3 separate regions of the Homo sapiens genome follow, and all the other regions are linked to region 3. A link means that fine-mapping ties the variant in region 3 to the expression of a gene that starts in the linked region. Tissue or cell type: monocytes after R848. Region 3 holds a variant in brackets; each other region holds the start of a gene. All regions are shown on one strand. Distances are between the middles of the regions.

Region 1 (8,109 bases), 120 kb after region 3:
TGGGAGTGGTGGCAGACACCTAATAGTCCCAGCTACTGGGGAGGCTGAGGCAGGAGAATGGCGTGAACCCAGGAGGCGGAGCTTGCAGTGAGCTGAGATCACGCCAGTGCACTCCAGCCTGGGAGACAGAGCGAGACTCCATCTCAAAAAAAAAGAATTTATCTTTGTGGTAGTGCCATAGCCTTCGGGTAGAGAGAGCTGATGAAATTTAACTTCTGATTATCTCAGGAAGCTGAGCTAAGTCAGTAATGAATGTGTACTTTGTAATTTTGTCTATTTGAACATTCACAACCTGCTGTTAGCCTTTTAAAAATCTCAGAAGTTTTAGGTTGAATAATATAAAACAAAAGCATCATAAAATTCACTAGAGAGAAAAAAATTGATTTTTTAACTAAGACTTTAAAAAGTAAATAGTGTATGTTCAAAGGAAGATTAGCGAATTGCTACAGTCACAGCTCAGTAACATTGGACTTGAACATCTATTGATAGTAAGTACTACGTTTAGCATTCATATGAAGATTATGTCTATAGACCTCAACAGTTTCATGATGCTGCCAAATAAAAATATTTTAATTTGCCTTTCAATTTTCCACACTTAATAGAGTCACATGCTATAACATTCCTTATAGATCAAGGATGCAAACATTTTCAGGGTTTAAGCTACAGGATTAGGAGGATTAAGCTAAGGATTAGGAAGAAAGATCATTACAATTCTCTGTCCTGTATGGGTTAACAATAAGCCTCAGCCTTTTTCTAACAATATTTGCTTTAGATAGAGATAATAGGTAGTCAAATAAATAAGTACTTCGAGGGCAGTACTTTGTGCCCAGTACGCTATCAGGAACCATGGACATTCGGAAAGAAGTCAAAGATGTCATCCCTGCATTTAGGAAATGCACACACTTGTTGGAGAGTAAGAATGTATATTTCTGTATCTACACAGCATTAAAAAGATCCACAGTGGGAGAGAGGAATATGGAAGCAAAATATTGGACAGAATGTGTTATTGACATAGATTCAACTATCTGTACCATAGACTTTAGAAAGGGGAAGCTAACTTTAGGCAGAAGTTAGTCACATAAGGCTTCATGGAGGAGGGGGGAGCCTTCAGACGAAAGTGGAATTTCTGGAGTTATATTAGAAAAGGGAAAGTGTTCCAGGGAGAGAATGGCACAAGCAAAGACACTAAAATAGTCCCTCCTTTATTAATCCATTCAGCAACCATTTAATGAGCACTTAGCTCATATGAAGACCAGTAACCAATATCTTCAAAGATGAAATGAAAGATGAAATCATGCTTCCTATCTTTATGGGAAAGGCTTAGGAGGAACTTCAATCTTATAATCCAGTACTATTCTGTAATCAGCTTTTGATGAGTATTTATTAAAAGAATGAGGCTTATCCTACTTTCCCAATGCATCTTCTTTCTTTCACATAATACCATCTATCCAGCTGACTCACATTCTTCTCTCTTTCATAAGATTGTTTCCCACTTGCTGCTCTCACTGCCCACAGTCATCAGCAACGTCAGCAGTTCACAGGGTGGGTGGGTGGGGGTTTCCAGAAACCCAGCTGGGATGTGTGGGTTAATAAAATCTGGAAGCAAGAGCTACCCGAGGACAGGCTAAGGAGTGATCATAGTTAGGAGCAGCCCAATAGCACTGTCATCTGGCAGCTGAGACAACAAATCATGGGAGAAAACAGGGATCATGACCTGCCGGCTGCTGTCAGCTGAAGCAAAGTGTAGGCAAATAGATCATATGCCATCCCCTGCCCTGAATCCTGAAGAGTTTCAGGTTCACATTCATTCTAAATGCAAGGCCAGCTCCAGAGAATATTGCAAAATGGGTTCTTAGTCATCAATGCCCTATTAACCTCTTGTTTGCTTCCCCTTTAGAGGCTCTTTTACTGTCCAATTGTGTATTTCATTTTTTCTTTTTCTTTTCTTTTTCCTTTTTTTTTTTTAAATGGGGCTTTGCTCTGTTGACTAGGGTGGAGCACAGTGGTGCGATCATGGTTCACAGTATCCTCGACCTCCCAGGCTCAAGCAGTCCTCCCACCTCAGCCTCCTGAGTAGCTGTGACCACAGACACAAGCCACCATGCCTGGCTAATTTATTAATGTTTTTTTGGTAGACGTGGGGTCTCACTATGTTACCCAAGCTGGTCTTGAACTCCTGGGCTCAAGAGATCCTCTCACCTCGGCTCCCCAAAGTGCTGGGAGCATAGGCATGAGCCACAGCGCCTGGCCTCAATTGTCTGTTTCTTTAGACCAGCAATGAGTTTTCCAAAGCTTTGTTTCCAAGGTAGATAGGCCTTTTCTTTGCCCACACAGAGGCAGCCGATCATTTCTAGAGAAAATAATGCAATTAGAACGGTTGGTTTATGCCATGATCTGAATGTTCGTGTCCCCCAACTTAAATTTGAATGCTGAGATCCTGACCCCCCGGGTGATAGAATTAAGAGATGGGGACTTTAGGGGGTGATTAGGTCGTAAGTGTGGAGCCCTCAAGAATGAGATTCATGCCCTTATGAAAGAGGCTCCCGCGAGTTCCCTTAACCCTCCTGCCAGGTGAAGACACAGGAAGCAGACAGCTGTCTATGAACAAGGAAGCAGGTTCTCACCAGACACCAAATCTGCTGACAGCTTGATCTTGCACTTCCAGCCTTCTGAACTGTGAGCAACAAATATTGATTGTTTACGCCATCAGTCTATGGTGTTTTGTTATAGCAGAAATGGACTTTGCTGCCTTGTATCCATCAACACCCTCTACTACAACAGGAAAATAGAAGTCATCTTTCTTTCCACCATGAAATTTAAACATATCTGCATACATGTTCATTGTCTTAGTCCATTTTGTGCTAGTATAATAGCACAGACCTATAAAGAACAGAACTTATAAAGAACAGAAATCTATTTCTTACCATTCTGAAGGCTGAGAAGTCCAAGATCAAGGCACCAGCATCTGGTGAGGGCTGCTCTTGGCTTCCACAATGGCATTTTGAACACTGTGTCATCCAAAGAAGAGAAACACTGTGTCCTCACATGGCAGAAGACAGAAGGGACAGAGGACCAAACTCCTTCATAAAGGGCTTTTATAACAACATTAATCCATTCATGAAGGTGGAGCCCTTATGACCTAAATACCCCAAAGGCCGCAACTCCCAACAGTGTTGCACTGGGATTAAGTGTCAGCATTCAAATATATTCTAAAACCCTCATTTATAAAGCCTTCTCTTTTACTTAACAAAGATAAAGGTGAAATCTTCCAGTCAATGGTGAGAAGACAGTTATTTTATAAATGATTTTGGGAAACCAGGTAGCCATCTAAAAATAAAACTAAAATTGTCTTAACCCCTCCCACTTGCACCAGGAAAATATACAATTGAATCAAAGATTTCAGAGTAAATAATGAAATTATAAATCAGTTCTAAGAAATCTCGAGAGAATTCTTCGAGAGTTGGAAAAACCTCTCTATGACACAAAACTCAAGAACCATAAACAAAAAGATTTATAAATTTGACAATACGAAAATCAACCATTTCTACAAGGCCGAAGCTACCATAAACAAATTTCAAAGACAAACAGCAAACTGGGAAAATATATATGCAAGATATATTGGAAGCAAAGGGCTACTTTTCCTTATATAAAGAAAGCATGTATAACGTGTTAAAAAAAATCAATAACTCAATTTTTTTAAAGGTACAACAATCCTCCCAATGACTCTTAACCAATAAAACATGTTTAATCTCACTCATAGCTAAAGAATGCAAATTAAAATAATACTGAGCTACCAATTTTCACTTGTGAAATTAGGAAAGGTCAAAAATTTGATAATCTTCTGTGCTGATGAGGTTGTGGGGAAAGAGGCATTTTCATATTGCTGATGGGAATGTAATAGGTACAACTTCTATGAAGAGGAATTTAGCATTATTTACCAAAATCACAACTACTCCTACCCTCTGATCCAGAAAATTCTACATCTAAAAATTTATCTTACAGATTACATGTACACACACTTCCAAAATGTATAAGGTTATTCGTTGCAGCTCAGAAATGAAAAATATTAGCAATAAACATGATCTCTCTCAATAAGAGATAAATCAACAATGGCACACCCCACAAAGAAGTAAGACCTCTGCTCCTTCTCCACACAGCCTGTAAATATCAGCTGTCCTCCACACTCAGTCCTAGACCTTCTTCCATTCCTACTCTTGGTGGTCTCATCCATTGCCAGGGCTTTAAATATCTTCACAGAAATTATCTCATTCCAGAAACCTTATAATAATCTTTTTTGTCTTCCTATCCCTCGTTCTCTTCACTAAATGCTATTAAACTACCTCAAAATTACATTTTAATAGTAAAACAGCTTTATTCATGTATAACTGAAATAAACTGTACATAATTGTAGTACATTATTTGATAAGCTTTGACACAAGTATACATTCAAAACTACCACCATAATCAAGATAATAAACATCTCCATCATCCCCGAAAGTTTCCTAATGCTCCTTTGTAATCCCTCTGGCCCACCTCTCCCTACTCCCCAAACTAGCCACTGATATGCTTTCCATCATGACAGCTTAGTGTGTATTTTCTAGAATTTTATATAAATAGAATCTTACAGTATAAACTCTTCTTTTCATTCTTCTTTCACTTACCATAATTATTTTCAGATTCATCTATGTTTTGTATATTATTAGTTCATTCCTTTTGTGACTGAGTAGTATTCCATTGCATGGAAATATCATAATTTGTTTAAATTCACCTATTGATAAACATTTGAATTCCTTTCATGTTTTCTCTATTATAAGTCAAACTGGTATGGATGCAAACATATATTTAATACATCCAGTTTCCTACATTTAAAAAAGTTCTATGTTTCTTCCTCCTGTTTTTAACACCTTTGCTAACCAACCACCATCTGTGAGTAGGTGTTAAGGGTTTCTTGACTGATCTTCTACTTTCTATTCTTCATTCTACCCTACAACCATAGCTATCATTTTTTTAAAAAACATTAATGTTTGTCCTTTTTTGTTTAAAGTTCTTTAGTAACCACCACTTCCTCTACCTTGCCCCAGCCCAGTACTCTAAGGATGTAATCCAAACTTCATAGTCTAAAATGCCTTTTATATTATCTGGCCTCCCTCACTTTACCTAGCACTGCTGTCTTTCAAGCTTGTGCTTCCTGACCCACATAATCCTTTTCTCATTGCCTCAAAAGCTCCACTATTTTTTTTCTACTCCAGGTATCCGTCACATGCTGTTCCTTCTTGGAATTCTCTTCCCCAGTTCATCTACTATCTTGCAACTTCTCCCATTCCTTAAGTTTCCAAGAAATCAGTAATGGATTACAAACATCTATCCAAATTTTCTGCCACTGTTGAAGAGGTAAGAGATGAGTTGACTCATTCAAGAAATGGAGCAAGGAGGCTGATCTAAGGAAGAAAAAAAATGAGCAAAGCCAAAAACTATGAACCCATGGTGATAATATCCACCGTATTGAGAGGCCAGTCCAGGAGGCTCATCAGTCTTTTCATAGCTAAAGACCACAGAAGTAATCAAAAGTAAAATATGTATGACAAAAAACCATTGAGTTGATAAAAGACAGCCTTGAGCAAACATTAAAATATGAAATGGAAAAAAGATGAAAATTACTAGACAGATGACTACTAATATGGAATCTAGACAAAGGCGATCTAATATAAAAATAATGGGTATTCTTAAATTTTAAAAAGCAAATAGTGAAAGAAAATGTACTTAAAGATTTAATAACAAAAAGAGAACACAAAGCACTAGAAAAAATTTCCCAGGAAAATCTGATAAAGAATATTTAATGCTTACACATATCTTGAAATAAACTAAAAGCTTTAAGGACATCCATGTAGAAAAAGAAAAGCTCCTCTAAGTGTAAGGGCTGTGAGGGAGGTGCAGATGAGCCTGACCTCCAAAACCTCAGCAGCAGCATTCAATGCCAGAAGACAATGGAGCTCTGCTTACAAAGTTCTGAGGAAAGGAAAGGGTAACTTTGTGTCCATCTAATTGTGCTTGAAACATAAAGGCAGGAAACAAACTTTAAAATAAGCAGCAATTCATGAAATTTAGTGCTCATGAATTATTTTTGAAAAAGCCATCCAACAACAAAACCCAGCAAGCCAATTGTTAAGTGAAAAATTAAAAACCCGGAAGTGGAAGGTTGGTCATTAAACACATTCAATGGCTTAAAGAAAAAGCAAAGCTGAGAATTATGGCTACAGGACAGAGTAAATTTATGAATCTTGATAATGAAAAAATAATAATACACTTAACAGAAATATGGTGTTGTAGGGGTAGGTTAGAAAGATGGTGCCATGTTGCTTACCTTCAGTGCAGGCAGATCCATAGATACTGCTTGAATTGAAGCATTTTGGTGATTGGGTTTTTTTTTTTTAAGTAAAAAAATCTTTTGAAATTTTAGAGTTATCTTCTAGGAAAATAAAATTGCTTGATGTGAAGAAACTTATTAATCTGAGATTGAGCAATTCTACCAATTTCACTAGCTTTTCTCCAGTTTAGTTCAAGTAAAGACAAATTTAATGCTTTTTGTTTTTTAAAAAAAGCATTTACAGTAGGTCCCATTTTTGTAGAATTATGTCTATGTGTGAATATGGGTACATACATAGAGAGATCACTAGGAACTAGGATGATGTTGCCAAATGTTATGACAATTATTTCTGGGTAGTTGATAGTGGGGGTTTTGCTTGTTGGTTTTGTTTTTTAACTTTCTTCTATATACTCTTCCGTAGCCCTTTTTGTGATAAGCATGTATCAGTTTTATAAAACCAATACGTTTTGAATAGGTCCCTGACATCTGAGCTATTGCAGGGTATGGCTGAGGAGAGGGAATTTTACCAGAAGGCCCATTAACCATGGGTCTCATACTCATAAAGACCATAAACTTAGATTTTTTATGTCCTCTCCAAATGAGTTCATACATGCTGTAATTGAAATATACTAATAGGATTAAACACTTAAATTATAGGGAGTTTTCTTCTTTTTAAAATTATAGCTGGAACTTCAAGATGTCCATTCTTCTTGAGAAGCCCTGCATATATTATTCAAAATTAAATAAATAATGATTTAATACATTGGGAAGGATATGGCTCAGAGGAAGGATCCTAGAGGCTTCCTTCCCCTTCCTAGATCATGCCCAGTTTAGAACTTTCTACCAGGTGAACACGTAGCCCTGACACTTCCACCTACAGCTGCAAGCATTGAACAAAAGGCAACTAATTTTTATGCGCCATTTCTGGAACTAGCCCTAGTCATCCAACACACAGATCTCTTTGAATTATAATGCTCAGAGATTTTTACTTGCTTATATTTGGCTCACTTTGGTCTGCCTTCTCTCTGATCTGATGACTCAGTTCCTAATCTCACTACTGAGTTTAGCAAATACTGCTTTTCTCACAACTAGATTCATAATTAGATTATCCATTTGTCTTTGGCTACCTGAACTCACATCATAACTGTGGGTTTCAATTCCCACCTCTCCCCTGCCTCACTGCTTCTTTTTTTTTTTTAATTGTACTTTAAGTTTTAGGGTACATGTGCACAATGTGCAGGTTAGTTATAGGTGGGAATTGAACAATGAGATCACTGCTTCTTAACATCTGGCTTGCTGCTAACCATATCTCATTCACCTGTAGTCATATGATACCGGAAAAGAAACCAAGAAAACAGTACGACTCGCTTGCTCATTAAAACTTCTGTGGCAATGAAGGGTGAAAAGGATTCATAAGAGTGATGAGAAATTCTGGCGGGACCAATATCCAGAATGATGAAATTGAGCTCCTCATGGAAAGATAGTCCTGGAACTCACAGGCTCTCATGCCCCTGAGATGTGGTAGAAATAGCCTTTAACTTGGAGTTAGAAGACCTTGGTTCTAATCCTAGCTCTGTGCTGGCAGAACTGCCCTACAAGTGAGATGAAAGGATGCTAAACAGTAACTCGAATCCTCACAAAGAAATAAAAAGCAGCAATAAGGGTAACTACACAGGTGACTTATAAAAGCATAAATGTGTGTTTGCTTGTAATTTTTCTGATTTAAGACAACTGCATAAAGTAAT
Region 2 (8,109 bases), 22 kb before region 3:
AAACCAAGATTTGGCAATAATTTATCATTATTACAATTGGATGGTAGATAATTGAGAGTTCATTATAATATTCTACTTTTTTGTGTTTGAGATTTTCCATTTTTTATTTTTACTTTTTATTATTCTTTTTTTTAGACGGAGTCTGTTTCTCTGTTGCCCAGGCTGGAGGGCAGTGAGGCGACCTCAGCCCACTGCAACCTCTGCCTCTTGGGTTCATGCGATTCTCCTGCCTCAGCCTCCTGAGTAGCTGGGACTCTAGGCGTGCCACCACGCCTGGCTAATTTTCGTTTTTTTTGTTGTTGTTGTTGTTGTTGTTGTTGTTGTTTTGAGATGGAGTATCACTCTGTCGCCCAGGCTGGAGTGCAGTGGCACGATCTCGGCTCACTGCAAGCTCCACCTCCCGGGTTCACGCCATTCTCCTGCCTCAGCCTCCCGAGTAGCTGGGACTACAGGCACCCGCCACCACGCCTGGCTAATTTTTTTTTTTTTAGTAGAGACGGGGTTTCACCATGTTAGCCAGGATGGTCTCGATCTCCTGACCTCATGATCCGCCCGCCTTGGCCTCCCAAAGTGCTGGGATTACAGGCGGAGCCATCGCACCTGGCCTAATTTGCATATTTTTAGTAGAGACAGGGTTTCACTGTGTTGGCCAGGCTGGTCTCAAACTCCTGACCTCAAGTGATCTGCCTGCCTCAGCCTCCCAAAGTGCTGGGCATGATCCACCGCGATTGGCAGAAAAATATTTTTAAAGCATGCATACAATAGTATTTATATAATAAAGACACATACAAAGAAAAGCATAAATATCAAGTGCCCAAGAATTGCTGCCATTGGTGGGTGATGGGGATGGAAATCAAAGGCAGAAATAAAAGAAAATAAAAATGAATGAATGATGGAGAAGGAGGAGCCTAACACAGACCATTGGCCAAAGTATGAAATAAACTAAGGAGTATAATTGGACCAATCTTCAACAAACAGGAAAACTGGAAAATGAAAACAGGAAAAACAAAACAGGCCACGTGCAGTGGCTCATGACTGTAATTCCAACACTTTGGGAGGCTAAGGTGGGCAGATCACTCGAGTCTAGGAGTTGGAGACCAGCCTGGCTAAAATAACGAAACCCTGTCTCTACTAAAAACAGAAAAATGAGCCAGGCGTGGTGGTGCACACCATGCCTGTAATCCCAGCTACTCAGGAGACTGAGGCACAAGAATCACTTGAACCTGGGAGGCGGAGGTTGCAGTGAGCCAAGATCACGGCACTACACTCCAGCCTGGGTGACAGAATGAGACTCTAAAAAAAAAAGTCCTATGTCAGTCCAAAGGCTGGCATTTAAGGATTTAAGGTCTCCTAAATTTGGTCTTGGCCTACCTTTTTAAGCTTATTTTTTCACCCACCTTGAAAAACTAACATCCCATCAAAATTAAATATCTATTGTTGACCATGTGTCTTAGTCTATTTCAGGCTGTTATAATAAAATACCATAACCTGGGTAGCTTATAAACAACAGAAATTTATTTATGACATTTCTACAGGCTAGGAAGTCCAAGATCAAGGCACAGCAGATTCCATGTCCGGTGAAGGCCCACTTTCTGGTTCATAGAGGGTGCCTTCTTGCTGTGTTCTTGCATCATGGAAGGGTTTAGCTAGCTCTCTGGGGTCCCTGTTGTAAAGGCACTGATTCCAATTACAAGTGCTTTACCTTCATGACCTAATCACATGCTAAAGCCCTCACCTCCTAATACCATCAGTTTAAGGGTTAGGATTTCAACATATGAATTTAGGGGGGATGTAAGCATTCCATTCATTTCACCATGTATAGCCTATTCTTCATTGATCCCATCATACAGTTTCTGATGGTTCTACTGCCCTAAACTCTGCCCATGCTCCATATCTGCATAACAACTTCTTACCCATCCTTCCAAATCTACCCCGTACACCATCTCCTCAAGATGCTTTCCCTAGTGCCCTGCTCTCTTCTCTCTCAGTGGAGAGTAATCTATGTACAAAACAAAAAACATCACACTTATCAGATTTGCTTAAGTATTTATCCTTTTATAATTGGTATTAGAATTTTTCTGTATTTGCCTTCTGCTCTAAAGATCCAGTTCTTTACAGTGTAATATCCTAGGACAGGTATCAGTTATATTCATCTCTGTATCCCATAATGCTTAGAACTGCTTCAAACACTGTAATGCAGGTGTCTCCTAGATGATAAATGGGGGAAAGACAGAGAGAAGGAAGGGAGGGAAAGAGAAAGGAAAAGAAAGTCTGAATGAATAAATTGCATTGCATTGGTTCTTTCAAGGGAGAAAACTGACCAAATTCACTTGAAAACATAAAACAAAATACCCAAATTCACTTGAAAACATAAAAAGGATTTCATAAAAGATGTCATCAAGCCGGGTGCGGTGGCTCATGCCTGTAATCCCAGCACTTTGGGAGGCTGAGGCGGGCAGATTACCTGAGTTCAGGAGTTTGAGACCAGCCTGGCCAACATGGTGAAACCCCGTCTCTACTAAAAATACAAAACTTAGCTGGGTGTGGTGGCAGGTGGCTGTAGTCCCAGCTACTCAGGAGGCTGAGGCAGGAGAATTGCTTGAGGCCAGGAGAGGGAGATTGCAGTGGCCCAAGACCATGCCACTGCACTCCAGCCTGGGCGACAGAGCAAGACTCTGTCTCAAAAAAAAAAAAAAAAAAAAAAAAAAAGATGTCATCAATTTTATAACGTTTCTTTCTCAGCTGTTTGGAGTTTCCTTTTTAAAGGCACTTAAGTGCATGCATCAAATGGTACAATAGAAACAAAAATATAAGCTAAAAGCTGAAAAATAAATTCAGGGGCCTTTTGGTAGGTCACGACCCCCCCCTTTATCCCTGCTGCAACAACAGCAGTAATGTGGAATAGGTGTTTCAACCCATTGCACATGGAGGAGTTTGTGCTTCCCCACACCTTACCCTACGTACCTCAGCTGATAGGCTCAGCAAGAGGTAAAAACAGCCATGGGACAGAAAAAAATCCAGTCCTTTTATGGGAGATGGCATAGGTGTGTTTGGAGAGAGGCAGTCCTTGGTTCAAATCCTGAGCATGGTTTTCTTAGGTCTGTGACCTTGAGCAACTCATTCAACCTCTCTGATTTTCTCTGTTGAGTTTCCTAACATCAAAATGGAGTGACACCTATTGTGGTTGCCATTGTTATTACTGACTGCCCTGCCTCATCCTTCTTTTAAATGACGTGATGCCTTTTGGGTAGAAGGGAGGCTGTTGCAGTTTTCCTGTTGAAAGGGGAGTTGCAACTGCCCTGTGATTCCATGGAGACTTGTGTGTGTGTGGAAGGCTGGAAAGCAAAGGTTGCAGTAAGTTTGTGACAGAAGCTTCCCTGAGACACCTGGAGACCCTTTGGCTTTGAGCAGAGCTGCTCCTGGACGAAGGAGAGCAAGCCTTGGGGACTAGACTGAAGTCGCCGAGAACCCGACTACTAAACAGTGCTGAGGGGACAGCCTCTGGGGACTGCATGCAGCCAGACCCCGGGATGTCTCATGTGATCCTCCTTCAGGCCACCGGAAGTGCAGTGGGCGTGGCCAGGAACAGAGCGGGAGAGCTAGCAGCAGGTACCTCCAGGGGAGGAGCGGGTTATAAACCTGGTGTAAGGCACGCCGTCCAGGACTCCCAGAAATACCGAACGAGAATCGTGAGAAAGTGGAGGATGAGGGAGAGTTCAAGGGATCACAGCCTGGGGAGAAGAACCATGGAAAGCTGGACATTAAAATTTAATAGTATTTCATTTTCTACTCCAGGTGGATGAAATCAAGGCTTGCTGCTGACAAAATATAAATCATGCCATATGATGCCAATTCTAAAATGCCATTAATTGTAAGTTGTGCCATCGATTTAAATAAGACTTTTTTGAAAAAAAAATTTACTCCTAACATTAATAATAAACAATGATCATAAAAGAAATCCTGAATTTAAACTCCAGTCAGCATCTGGCCGGCCATGGTGGCTCACGCCTGTAATCCCAGCACTTCGGGAGGCTGAGGTTGGAGGATCGCTTGAGACCAGGAGTTTGAGACCAGCCTGGGCAACATAGTGAGACCCCATCCCTATTTAAAAATTTTTTTAATTTTACATATTTTATTGTATTGTATTTGATTCTTTTACAAATTTCAGTAGGTTTTTGGGGAATAGGTGGTGGTTGGTTACATTAATAAGTTCTTTAGTGGTGATTTCTGAGATTTTGATGCACCCGTCATCCAAGCAGTGTGCACTGTACCCATTGTGTAGTCTTTTATCCCTCCCACCCCATCCCACCCTTTCCTCCAAGTCCCCAAAGTCCATTATATCATTCTTATGCCTTTGTGTCCTCATTGCTTAGCTCCCACTTATAAGTGAGAACATACGGTGTTTGGTTTTCCATTCCTGAGTTACTTCACTTAGAATAATAGTCTCCAATTCCATCCAGGCTGCTGCGAATGCCATTATTTCGTTCCTTTTTATGGCTGAGTAGTATTCCATTTTCTTAATCCACTTGTTGATTGATGGGCATTTGGGTTGGTTCCATATTTTTTGCAATTGCAAATTGTGCTGCTATAAACATGCATGTGCAAGTATCTTTTTCATATAATGACTTCTTTTCCCACCTACTAGTGGGATTGCTGGATCAAATGGCAGATCTACTTTTAGTTCAAAAAAATTTTTTTAGTTTAAAAAATAAAATTAAAATAATAACAATAATTTAAAAAGGGCCAGTTGGTGTGATGCATGCCGATAATACCAACTATTCAGGAGGATCACTTGAGGCCAGGAGTTGGAAACCAACCCAGGAAACATAAGGAGACCCCATCTCTATTAAAAAAAAAAAAAAAATCCTGGATTCAGATAGCATAAACTATAAACTGTAACAAACAAGTATCAAAACAGAGAAAATGTGATATTTGTACCATTTAATAAACTTCCCTTTTATTCAGTAAATAAAAAATAAATGGTACATTTAATGCTTTGATAATTGTGAAGATCCTTACAAACATTACTTTTACATTTTGAAATGTACATATACAATTTTACGTGAAGTTTTTGAACAGAGGTAAAGATGGAATATAAAATATTTTGATCAATATTCTTTCCCACTAATTATGATAACTTTATTTGTAATGTACACTATTTGAGAAGTAACTGTCAGTAGAAAACAAGTGAAAATTCATATCCAAAAGGTAGAAAGTACATATTTTATTTTTCTAAAAAAAAAGATTCTGTTTCATTTTGTCACCATTAAACGTTGCCAAAATGTCCATTTCCTCTATGAAAAATTAGATATGTTGTAAACCGAGTACATAAATAACATTTTATTGGACATAAAACACTATGTGGTTACATAAGCTTTAGAAATGAGGATTAGTCCATATTTGGTACAATATTAACCTTAAAACAGACACACTGAATGGTGAGAAGATAATTTTTATTGTATATATAGAAACAGTTAATTGGGAAATACAGAAAAATCCTTCACAAAACAAAAGATATTTTATCTGTAAAAATCAGTAATGCTCATGGCTTATTCCAGGTGATATGAAGATAATCAAATAGCAGTTCCTTAAATTTTATAACTAAAGCATATATAGAAGTATTCACTTATATCTACAATTTACTTTTAAAAATGGTAAGAAAACTGTGCATAAGTAATAAAAATAAATGTATTTCCTACTATTAACTACAAATTTCAAAGGCTAATAGTTGTATTATTTTAGAATTATCAATATACAAGTATTTCAGTATTCAAACACAGTTTATAAACATGTCATTTTAAACACGATTTCCTCAGAGAGGCCTTTTCTGAAAAACACACCCCTGTTATCTAAACTATATCTTCTTCCCCTTATTCTTTGTCATAGCCCTCTTTCACCGTCATGGAACCTCACAATTTTAAATTGTGCTGTAGCAGGCCGGGTCTCACTAACAGCTGAACAGGCAGGCCTCCATGACAACTGTTTCAGCACTGACTGAGTGTTAAGTTAAATATTAAAAAGTTGATAGAGGCCGGGTGCGGGCTCACACCTGTAATCCCAAAACATTGCGAGGCCGAGGCAGGCGGATCACGAGCTCAGAAGATCGAGACCATCCTGGCTATAAGGGTGAAACCCCGTCTCTACTAAAAAATAAAAAAAAAAAAATTAGCCAGGCATGATGGCGGGCGCCTGTAGTCCCAGCAATTCGGGAGGCTGAGGCAGGAGAATGGCGTGAACCCAGGAGGCGGAGCTTGCATTGAGCCGAGATCCCGCCCGTTGCACTCCAGCCTGGGGGACAGAGCGAGACTCTGCCTCAAAAAATAAATAAATAAATAAATAAATAAATAAGTTGATAGAAGGCCGGACGCAGCGGCTCATGCTTGTAATCCCACAACTTTGGGAGGCTGAAGCGGGTGGATCACTTCAGGTCAGGAGTTCGAGACCAGCCTGGCCAACATGGTAAAACCCCATCTCTATCAAAAATACAAAAATTAGCCGGGCATGGTGGCAGGTGCCTGTAATCCCAGCTACTCTGGAGGCCCAGGCGGGAGAATCACTTGACCCTGAAGGCGGAGGTTGCAGTGGGCAGAGATTGCAGTGAGCCAAGATCATGCCACTGCACTCCAGCCTGGGCGACAGAGCAAGACTTCCTCTCAAAAACAAACAAACAAACAAACAAACAACAACAACAACAAACGTAATAGAGCCAGTGTCCTTATACAAAGGCTGGAAGGTAACAAAAGCCCACTGAGAGTTTTGCCTAGACTTTTCCTGGGCCTTGAAGCATGACAAGATAACAAAGGAATTCTTAACAAGATCCGTTTAGTATTAAACAAGTTTTACTGGGGTCTGAAGGAACTCCCTAAACCTCCATGATTTAGCAAGGAGACAAGATAAGGGTAATTACCTTTGGCACCTGGACCCATCTAGATTAAGTAAATTTACTGAGGCTCCACAGGAAGGTCTTTAGGCCACAGACTTTAGCTATAGGTTAGAAGAAATTAATAACTTATGTCTTCCGATGAATGCACACTTACACGTAGACATGTAGCTTAGAAGGTATATAAGCTCTGCAAAACTGTAATTTTGAGTTGGTCTGCTGATATTTTCCCGGCCTTCTCTCTATACCCGGTTACAGAAGTAAACTCTCTTCTTTCCCAGTTCATCTGCATCTCGTTATTGGGCCGTGAGAATAAGCAGCCTGATCCTTGGTTCATTCCGGGAACAGTGCATTCATTTATGTGGCTCTTCATTTAACACTAGTCTCCTCCCACCCAACTAAGCTATAAGCTCCATGAGAAATATCCTGCCTTTTGCTTGTTATTTTGTCCCAGTACCTAGCACGGTACCAGATACCTAGTAGGCACTTAATAAATATTCATTAAATCTATTCATATTTCCCCAGTCCCCTTACTTTACTCCTTTTTCTGCATCTTTCCTTTTATTGAACCCCTACACTTCCCAGCTCCTCCATTAACCCCTGCAGAGTATTCACTGACTGCTGAAACTAGAGCATCACTGAGAAGCAAGAGATAGACTGACCTAACTAGAGGGAGAGCTGCCATCCAGGATGATGCCACCATCACAGGAGGTGAGAAGGAACACAGCATCTTCTGCAAATGCTACAGTAAATAGGGACGGGGTGCAGGTAAGATCACTGACCCCAGGTCACTGACCCCAGTATTCTCAGAGCCAACAGCTAACTTTGCAGGAGAGCCCTGAGCCAATTACTAGATATGTAAACTTTAAAAAAAATGCTTAAGTCATCAAAATTTATTTTTTTCAATGGCAAAATGAGGATATTATTGTTCACCTCATATGGCTGTAGTGAGAATTAAATAACAGGATGCTTATGAATTTGAACCCAATGATGAACACATACTAATGTCTCAATTAATGCCATAATTATTTGATCCAGATCTGCAAACATTCAAAAACAGCTTTGCATAAATAAGCCCTGAATTAAATGAATCAGCCTCCTTGATCTTTTCCAGATGAATCATTTGCCCAACTTCTTCCCATACAATGAGATATCATATCTTAAATATGCAAATCAGTAGTTTTTTGCACTAATCAAGAGAGATTGCTCTGCTCCAACTGTCCCCTCAT
Region 3 (8,109 bases):
AGGACATACCTGTGACACAGTCTCAGGAGGTCCTGATGACTTGTGCCCAGGGTAGTTGGGGTACAGCTTGCTTTTATTTGTTTTAGGGAGACAGGAGATATCAATCATTATGTGTAAGATGTACCTTGGTTCAGTCCAGTAAGGCACACAGGGTTGGGGGGAGCAGAGGGGGATTCCTTTGAGTCTTTGACCAGCCTTTCACCGAATACACAATTTAGTCTGGCTCAGTGAATCTGCATTTTTATATAAACAATATGGCAGAGGAAGCAATCAGATATGCATTTGTCTCAGATGAGCCTCAGAAGGATGACTTTGATTTCTGTCTATCCCTTGTCCACAAGGAAATTCCTTGTAGGCAAATTGTGAGGGAGGTATGTAGCCTTTTATCTTTGTAGCTATTTTATTTAGGAATAAAATGAGATGCAGGCAGGTTTGCCTGACATCGTTTCCAGCTTGATTTTTCCCTTGGCTTAGTGCTTTGGAGGTCTCGAGATTTATTATCCTTTCACAACATATAGAGGAGTGTCTCAAACTTGATACTACTGACATTTAGAGTAGGACAATTCTTGTTGTGGGATGTCCTGTGTATTGTAAGATAAGTTTTTAGGTGAGTTGAATTTTTTCCTTAAGGTACTTACTACATTAAAGTTTAAGTACTAAAATAAGTGGCAGGAGGTATTGTATGAGAAAAAATACTTTCGGGAAGTACAATATATTTTTTTTTTTTTTTTTGCTTTTAGGAACTGGTCTTATCGAAGCAAAATTGCTCAATTATTCAGTACAATTGCCTTTCTACATAGATGTAATTATGGCTAACACTTTTTCACATCTCATCATCCATGAATGATAGGTTATAGTGCGCCAAAGTTCAATTATTTGGTGTTATCTAATCTAGAATGAACTTTACATATATTTATGTGAACTAAGGTGAATGAAATGGAAGAAAAAAGGCAGAGACTAAGATCAGATATCTTTAAAAAGGTAAATACATGCCTTAGCAATCTTACTCACATTTTGACACTTGGCCTATTTTAGCAATATTAATCACCCATGCACAGCCATTGTCAAATCATTTATACTATATGCGACAAGCATGTTTTTCTGGCTTTGGGTTTTGTTTTTAAATACAAAGCCCCATAATTTGGAACAATAGCTGGATAATTTGGAGTGAAAAAACTGGATAAGATCTACCATCTCCAAATTTAGAATGACAGAAATTGGTTTCCAGTAAGATATGTCAACAAAAAGAGTCAAACTCTATAAAATAGTTGAAGACATTTATTTTGAGCCAAATATGAGTGGTCATGGGCTGTGACACAACCCCAGGTGATCCTGAGAACATGTGCCCAAGGTGGTCGGGCTACATATAGTTTGGTATCATACATTTTAGGTGGATGTAAGACATCAGTACATGAAAGATGGTGGTTCAGTCCAGAAACATGCCCTGAAAATGTGAGACAACTTGGGAAACATGAGACAACTCGGGGTGAGGGGGCTGTATTAGTCCATTTTCACGCTGCTGATAAACATATACCTGAGACTGGGAAGAAAAAGAGATTTAATTGAACTTACAGTTTCACATGGCTAGGGAGGCCTCAGAATCATGGTGGGAGGTGAAAGGCACTTCTTACATGGTGGCAGCCAAAGAAAACGAGGAGGAAGCAAAAGCAGAAACCCCTGATAAACCCATCACATCTCATGAGACTTATTCACCATCACGAGAATAGCATGGGAAAGACCAGCCAGCATGATTCAATTACTTCCCCCTGGGTCCCTCCCAAAACAGGTGTGAATTTTGGAAGATACAATTCAAGTTGAGATTTGGGTGGGGACACAGCCAAAACATGTCATTCCACCCCTAGCCCCTCCAAATCTCATGTCCTCACATTTCAAAACTAATCATGCCTTCCCAACAGTCCCCCAAAGTCTTAACTCATTTCAGAATTAACCCAAAAGTCCACAGTCCAAAGTCTCATCTGAGACGAGGCAAGTCCCTTCTGCTTATGAGCCTGTAAAACCGAAAGCAAGCTAGTTACTTCCTAGATAAAATGGGGGTACAGGTATTGGGTAAATACAGCCATTCCAAATGGGAGAAATTAGCCAAAACAAAGGGGTTACAGGGCCCATGCAAGTCCGAAATCCAGTGGAGCAGTCAAATTTTAAAGTTCCAAAATGATATCCTTTGACTCCAGGTCTCACATTCAGGTCATGCTGATGGAAGAGGTGGGTTCCCATGGTCTTGGGCAGCTCTGCCCCGGTGGCTTTGCAGGGTACAGCCTCCCTCCCAGCTGTTTTCACAGGCTGGCATTGAGTGTCTGCGGCTTTTCCAGGTGCATGGTGCAAGCTGTCAGTGGATCTACCATCCTGGGATCTGGAGGACGGTGGCCCTCTTCTCACAGCTCCACTAGGCAGTGCTCCATTAGGGACTCTGTGTGGGGGCTCTAAACTCCACATTTCCCTTCTGCTCTGCCCTAGCAGAGGTATTCCATGAAGCCCCTGCCTGTGCAGCAAACTTTTGCCTGGGCATCCAGGCGTTTTCATACATCTGAAATCTAGGTGGAGGTTACCAAACCTCAATTCTTGATTTCTGTGCACCTATAGGCTCAACACCACATGGAAGCTGCCAAGGCTTGGGGCTTCCACCCTCTGAAGCCACAGCCTGAGCTGTATGTTGGCCCCTTTCAATCATGGCTGGAGTGACTGGGACACAGGGCACCAAGTCCCTGGGCTGCACACAGCACGGAGACCCTGGGCCTGGCCCACAAAACCACTTTTTTCTCCTGGGCCTCCAGGCCTATGGTGGAAGGGGCTGCCATGAAGGTCTCTGACATGGCCTGGAGACATTTTCCCCATGGTCTCGGGGATTAACATTAGGCTCCTTGCTACTTATGCAAATTTCTGACACCAGCTTGAATTTCTCCCCAGAAGATGGTTTTTTCTTTTCTATCACATAGTCAACCTGCAAATTTTCCAAACTTTTATGATCTGCTTCCCTTATAAAACTTTAACAGTACCCAAGTCACTTATTGAATGCTTTGCTGCTTAGAAATTTCTTCCACCAGGTATCCTAAATCATCTTTCTCAAGTTCAAAGTTCCACAAATCTCTAGGGCAGGGGCACGATGCCACCAGTCTCTTTGCTAAAACGTAACAAGAGTCACTTTTACTCCAGTTCCCAACAAGTTTCTCATCTCCATCTGAGACCACCTCAGCATGGACATTATTGTCAGCTGTCATTATTGTCAACATGTCAGCATGTTGGGCAAAGCCATTCAACAAGTCTCTAGGAAGCTCCAAACTTTCCCACATTTTCCTGTCTTCTTCTGAGCCCTCCAAACTGTTCCAACCTCTGCCTGTTACCCAGTTCCAATGTTGATTCTACCTTTTCAGGTATCTTTTCAGCAACACACCACTCTACTGGTACCAATTTACTGTATTAGTCCATCTTCACACTGCTGATAAAAACATAACTGAGACTGGAAAAAAAAAAGAGGTTTAACTGGACTTACAGTTCCACATGGCTGGGAGGGCCTTAGAATCACGGTGGGAGGTGAAAGGCACTTCTTACAGCGTGGTAGCAAGAGAAAATGAGGAAGAAGCAAAAGGGGAAACC[T/C]CTGATAAACCCATCAGATCTTGTGAGACTTATTCACTATCGTGAGAATAGCACAGGAAAGACCAGCCCCCATGATTCAACTACCTCCTCGTGGGTCCCTCTCAAAACAGGTGGGAATTCTGGGAGATACAATTCAAGTTGAGATTTGGGTGGGGACGCAGCCAAACCGTATCAGAGGGTCAGTTCCAGGTCCCCGCTAATATTTGAATAGGTGGATTCAAAGGTTTTCTGAATGGCAATTGGTTGAGTTTACCTAAGGACCTAGAATCGATAGAAGGGAGTGTCTGGGTTAACTAAGGAGTTGTGGAGACCAAGGTTCTTATTATACAGATGAAGCCTCCAGGTAGCAGGCTTCAAAGAGAATAGACTGTAAATGTTTGTTGGGAGACTTAAAAAGGTGCCAGACTCCGTTAATTCTCTTCTGGATCAGGAAAAAGACCTGGAAAGGGAAGGGGATTCTCTACAGGATGTAGATTTTCCCCACAAGAAACAGCTTTGCAGGGCCATTTCAAAATATGTCAAAGAACTGTATTTTAAGATAAAATACTTGATTTCTTCAGGGCCTATTATCCATCATGTTGGTATTTTATTGTTCCAAAGAACCTGTTTAGTCAGTCTTCAGGTCTGTTTCAATGTTAATGCTGGTCAGCTGTGCCTGAAATCCAAAGGGAGGATGTTATAATTAGGCATGTCTGATCACCTATTCCATCATGGCCTGAAGTAGTGTTTCATATTTCAGGTTTACTTTTTTTTAATTTATTTTTTATTTTTTTTGAGACGGAGTCTCACTCTGTCACCCAGTCTGGAATGCAGTGGCGTGATTTTGGTTCATTGCAACCTCCGCCTCCCTGTTCAAGTGATTCTCCCACCTCAGCCTCCCAAGTAGCTGGGATTACTGGTGCATGCCACCACACCTGGCTAATTTTTGTATTTTAAGTAGAGACGGGGTTTCGCTGTGTTGGCCAGGCTGGTCTTGAACTCCTGACCCCAGGTGATCTGCCTGCCTTGGCCTCCCAAAGTGGTGGGATTACAGGTGTGAGTCACTGCGCCTGGCCTCAGGTTTACTTTAGAATGTTCTTGGCCTAGAGGAGTGGTCCATTCAGGTAGTTGGAGGGCTTAGAATTTTATTTTTGGTTTACGGATATTAGGGTATTGCTCATTATTTTCCATCTTTCTAGATCACCTCCCATATCAGCTGCTCAAACCTCATCTTCTACATTCCTCTTTCTTTCTTCAACCTTCACTTAGAGCTCAGGTCCTGAGATCAGACTTGAGTGAGATTTCCTTTAAACTAATGGGAGGAGGTAAGTAACTGTAACATACAAAGATGAATAATAAGTACATGAAGAGGTGGGCACCATGGCTCATGCCTGTAATCCCAGCACTTTGGGAGGCCAAGGCAGGCGGATCACCTGAGGTCAGGAGTTTGAGATCAACCTGGCCAATATGGCAAAACCCCATCTCTACCAAAAATACAAAAACTAGGGCCAGGCACAGTGGCTCACACATGTAATCCCAGCACTTTGGGAGGCCAAGGCTGGCAGATTACCTGACGTCAGGAGTTCAAGACCACCCTGGCTAACGGTGAAACCCCGTCTCTACTGAAAATACAAAAATTAGCCCGGCGTGGTGGCAGGCGCCTGTAGTCCCAGCTACTCGGGAGGCTGAGGCAGGAGAATTGCTTGAACCCAGGAGGTGGAGGTTGCAGTGAGCCAAGATCATGCCACTGCACTCCAGCCTGGGTGACAGAGCAAGACTCCCGTCTCAAAAAAAAAAAGAAAAAAGTACATGAAGAGCCATTATACTATGTTCTCTCAACTTTTGTGCTTTATTGGAAATGTCCATAATAAAAAGTTATCTTTAATTATTCTCCAGTGAGAAGAGTGAGTCTACAGGACTCAGATATCACTCGCCCTGTCCCAACACATTATCATGGCGTCTTTATCTTCTATAAGAAGACAATGAGATTTTTCTAGGAAAAAAAGCTCACCACTTCCCATGTGTTCTGGATCCCAACAAGTCAGGTCTCCTGAGACATTTTGCTTCTGAAAATATCCTTTCTTGTTCCCACATCTTCAATCTTGCCCCCTTTTGATGCCTACCCATCTTCTTTAGCACACTCAAACTTCTCCATGTTAAAAAAGTTCTTCACTTGAACTTCACAGACCTTTTGTAACTCTACATGAAAACAAGCACATTTATATTTTTCAAAAATCCATGTAAACTAAAAATTGGCTTGGAAAAGGTCAAAAGAGTTTCCTTGCTTTTTTGACAATGACAATAGCACACCTCAGCAGCATGTATTACAAATAGTACACGATACAAAAAGATTTGAACTCTTTCAACTAATTTTAGTAATAACATCAGAAAATGTTTAGGCTGGAAGGGAAACTTTATCTCCTCCAGACTCTCATTTGTACAGATGAGAGGAAAGGACTCTCCAATGATTATCACAACTTTGCTTAGATTGACCCAGCAGGTAGCCCTCTGAGATGGGGCCAAAGCCCCAGTCTTTTGGCTACTGCTCTTCCATCATAAAGCCCCCAGGGATCTTCTTGAATAAGATCAAGTCAAATTCCAAGTACAATTCAATTGTAGGGAGAAAATTCCTTCTGTATCTTTTGTTGTTTAACATGTACACTGAAGTTAAGAAATAACTAACTATTTGTTTTCACCAATTAAGAAATTTAACATTGGGAGGCCGAGGCGGGCGGATCACGAGGTCAGGAGATCGAGACCATCCCGGCTAAAACGGTAAAACCCCGTCTCTACTAAAAATACAAAAAATTAGCCGGGCATAGTGGCGGGCGCCTGTAGTCCCAGCTACTTGGGAGGCTGAGGCAGGAGAATGGCGTGAACCCGGGAGGCGGAGCTTGCAGTGAGCCGAGATCCCGCCACTGCACTCCAGCCTGGGCGACAGAGCGAGACTCCATCTCAAAAAAAAAAAAAAAAGAAAGAAATTTAACAGACAAAAAGCTTAAGGACTTCACAGGCAGATCCGCGGGTTTTGGGGAAAGGGTGTGTCAAGGGAGAAGAAAGGATGTAATGAAGGTTGGCATCAAGTCCCAGGAAGAATCACACTGAAGGCAGCCACCAGCTTCACCCAGGCTAAGTGGTGTAGTAGACAGCTTTGAAATATCACTGGAGTTCAAACCCCAGCTTAGCCACTACCTGTTACTTAGTATTACTGGATCTCAGTTGCCTCACTTATAAAATGTGGCAAAGATTAGTACTGTTTTACGGATACCAGCTCAAAGTGCCTGGCATAGAATGTGATATACTGGGACCCAAGCGACAGACCACCAAGGTCAAGGGATACTCAAGCCAAAGAGAGCGGTAAAGGCAGGGGCAGATAACCTAGAAGTGCCTTCCTCAGAGTCCCCTGGGCACTCTCTCTGTTTTCCTTATTTGATCTCGCGAAGCCGCTGACTCAAGGGAAACTGGGAATGGCGTGACCACAGAGAAAATGATGTATTTTTTGGTCCTTGGAGGCCCGAAACCCATCGTGTCTGAAACGACTGCGGCAATCCTAGCAGCAGCAGCAGCCCAGAGGTCAGGAGTGATGGACTGAGACTTTGCCCTAAGAAGCCTCCCCCAGATTGACCTCCGGCTCGGAGCCCGCACAAAGCGCTGAGTCACGGGGAGGCGGTGCCGCGCGCGGGGGAGGCGGGCCCGCGCAGTCACGTGGCGGGGGCTGTATCACAACAACTGCGCGGCGTGCGCCGCCCGCGGCCCACACCGCTTCCTCCCGCGACAGGCCGGCTCTCCGAGCATGCTCAGCTTGGCCTCACGACTGCACGGCGTCCCCCCATGCGGATCTCCACGGTCCAGGTTTTCCGGACGGCTCTGGGGGCGGGGCCTGTGTTGGTCCGCGGGGCTGCGAGGCGAGGTTGCGGTGCCAGGGCGCCGCTGGGCAGAGATGGGTTCCTGGAGAGCGGGTCTCGCGTTTTTCCGCGGAAGACACTACTGGGAATCGGCCTTTGGTCATGGTCTAGGGAAGAGCTGATTCTGCAAGATATGAGCTCCTTCTTTCCCCTTCAGCTATCGTTACAGCCCTGATGGAGCTGTCTGCTGAAAACTCACTTCCAGATGTCGAAACCTGGCCCTGGGTGCAGTCTACAGAATGAAATCGAGCAGTAGTGGACCTATGCAGGCAAAGCATTGTCAGAGGGGAGTAACTCTTGTTAAATATGACTTCAGTTGATCCGTGATGGGATTTTTGTTTTTTCTTTGTAACAGAAAAGGCTAAAGACACTGAGAGATCAAGGTTTAAATTGGGCATAACTGCCCTGTGGTGCAGCAGCGCCGGCGCCCTTTTTGGGATTGTCCAAAGCTCTGGGACCCCCGCTGGGGGAGCTGGTTCAGAATTCGGGGGGGTAGGATAGGGTGAGGGAGGTCCCTTATGTGAGTGTGAGCCGGGATCTAGGACAGAGTAACTCCAATTACAGTGTTAAACTCTTACTAGGTTCAGTGTCGCGTAGGGCTTTGGCTAGACTA

Which allele goes with the higher level. Positions count from the first base shown, and alleles are read on the strand shown. Sizes are in standard deviations (SD) of each study's normalised expression.
For the expression in monocytes after R848 of the gene that starts at base 3,070 in region 1, C is the high allele of the variant in region 3 and T is the other (large effect, 0.91 SD a copy in Quach 2016).
For the expression in monocytes after R848 of the gene that starts at base 3,796 in region 2, C is the high allele of the variant in region 3 and T is the other (moderate effect, 0.60 SD a copy in Quach 2016).

Evidence for each region. PIP is the estimated chance that this variant, and not a neighbour inherited with it, causes the effect.
Region 1: GCLC-AS1 starts here. The variant in region 3 is fine-mapped to the expression of GCLC-AS1 in monocytes after R848 (Quach 2016, PIP 0.95). The same link has a PIP of 0.9 or more in monocytes, monocytes after LPS and monocytes after Pam3CSK4.
Region 2: KILH starts here. The variant in region 3 is fine-mapped to the expression of KILH in monocytes after R848 (Quach 2016, PIP 0.95).

Annotation. Positions count from the first base shown.
Region 1 is chr6:53,426,455-53,434,563 of GRCh38, reverse strand. GCLC-AS1 (GCLC antisense RNA 1) reads right to left here and starts at 3,070. Exons shown (of 5, transcript NR_183318.1): 1 at 2,925-3,070.
Region 2 is chr6:53,568,962-53,577,070 of GRCh38, reverse strand. It overlaps KILH (KRT19 interacting long noncoding RNA in hepatocellular carcinoma), which reads left to right and starts at 3,796. Exons shown (of 4, transcript NR_110840.1): 1 at 3,796-3,871; 2 at 7,466-7,648. RefSeq lists an enhancer at 3,537-4,037.
Region 3 is chr6:53,547,390-53,555,498 of GRCh38, reverse strand. No RefSeq gene overlaps it. Among named protein-coding and RNA genes, the nearest start is that of GCLC, 6.3 kb to the right of the region's middle. RefSeq lists a silencer at 7,128-7,357. The variant T/C (reference allele first, on the strand shown) is at 3,613.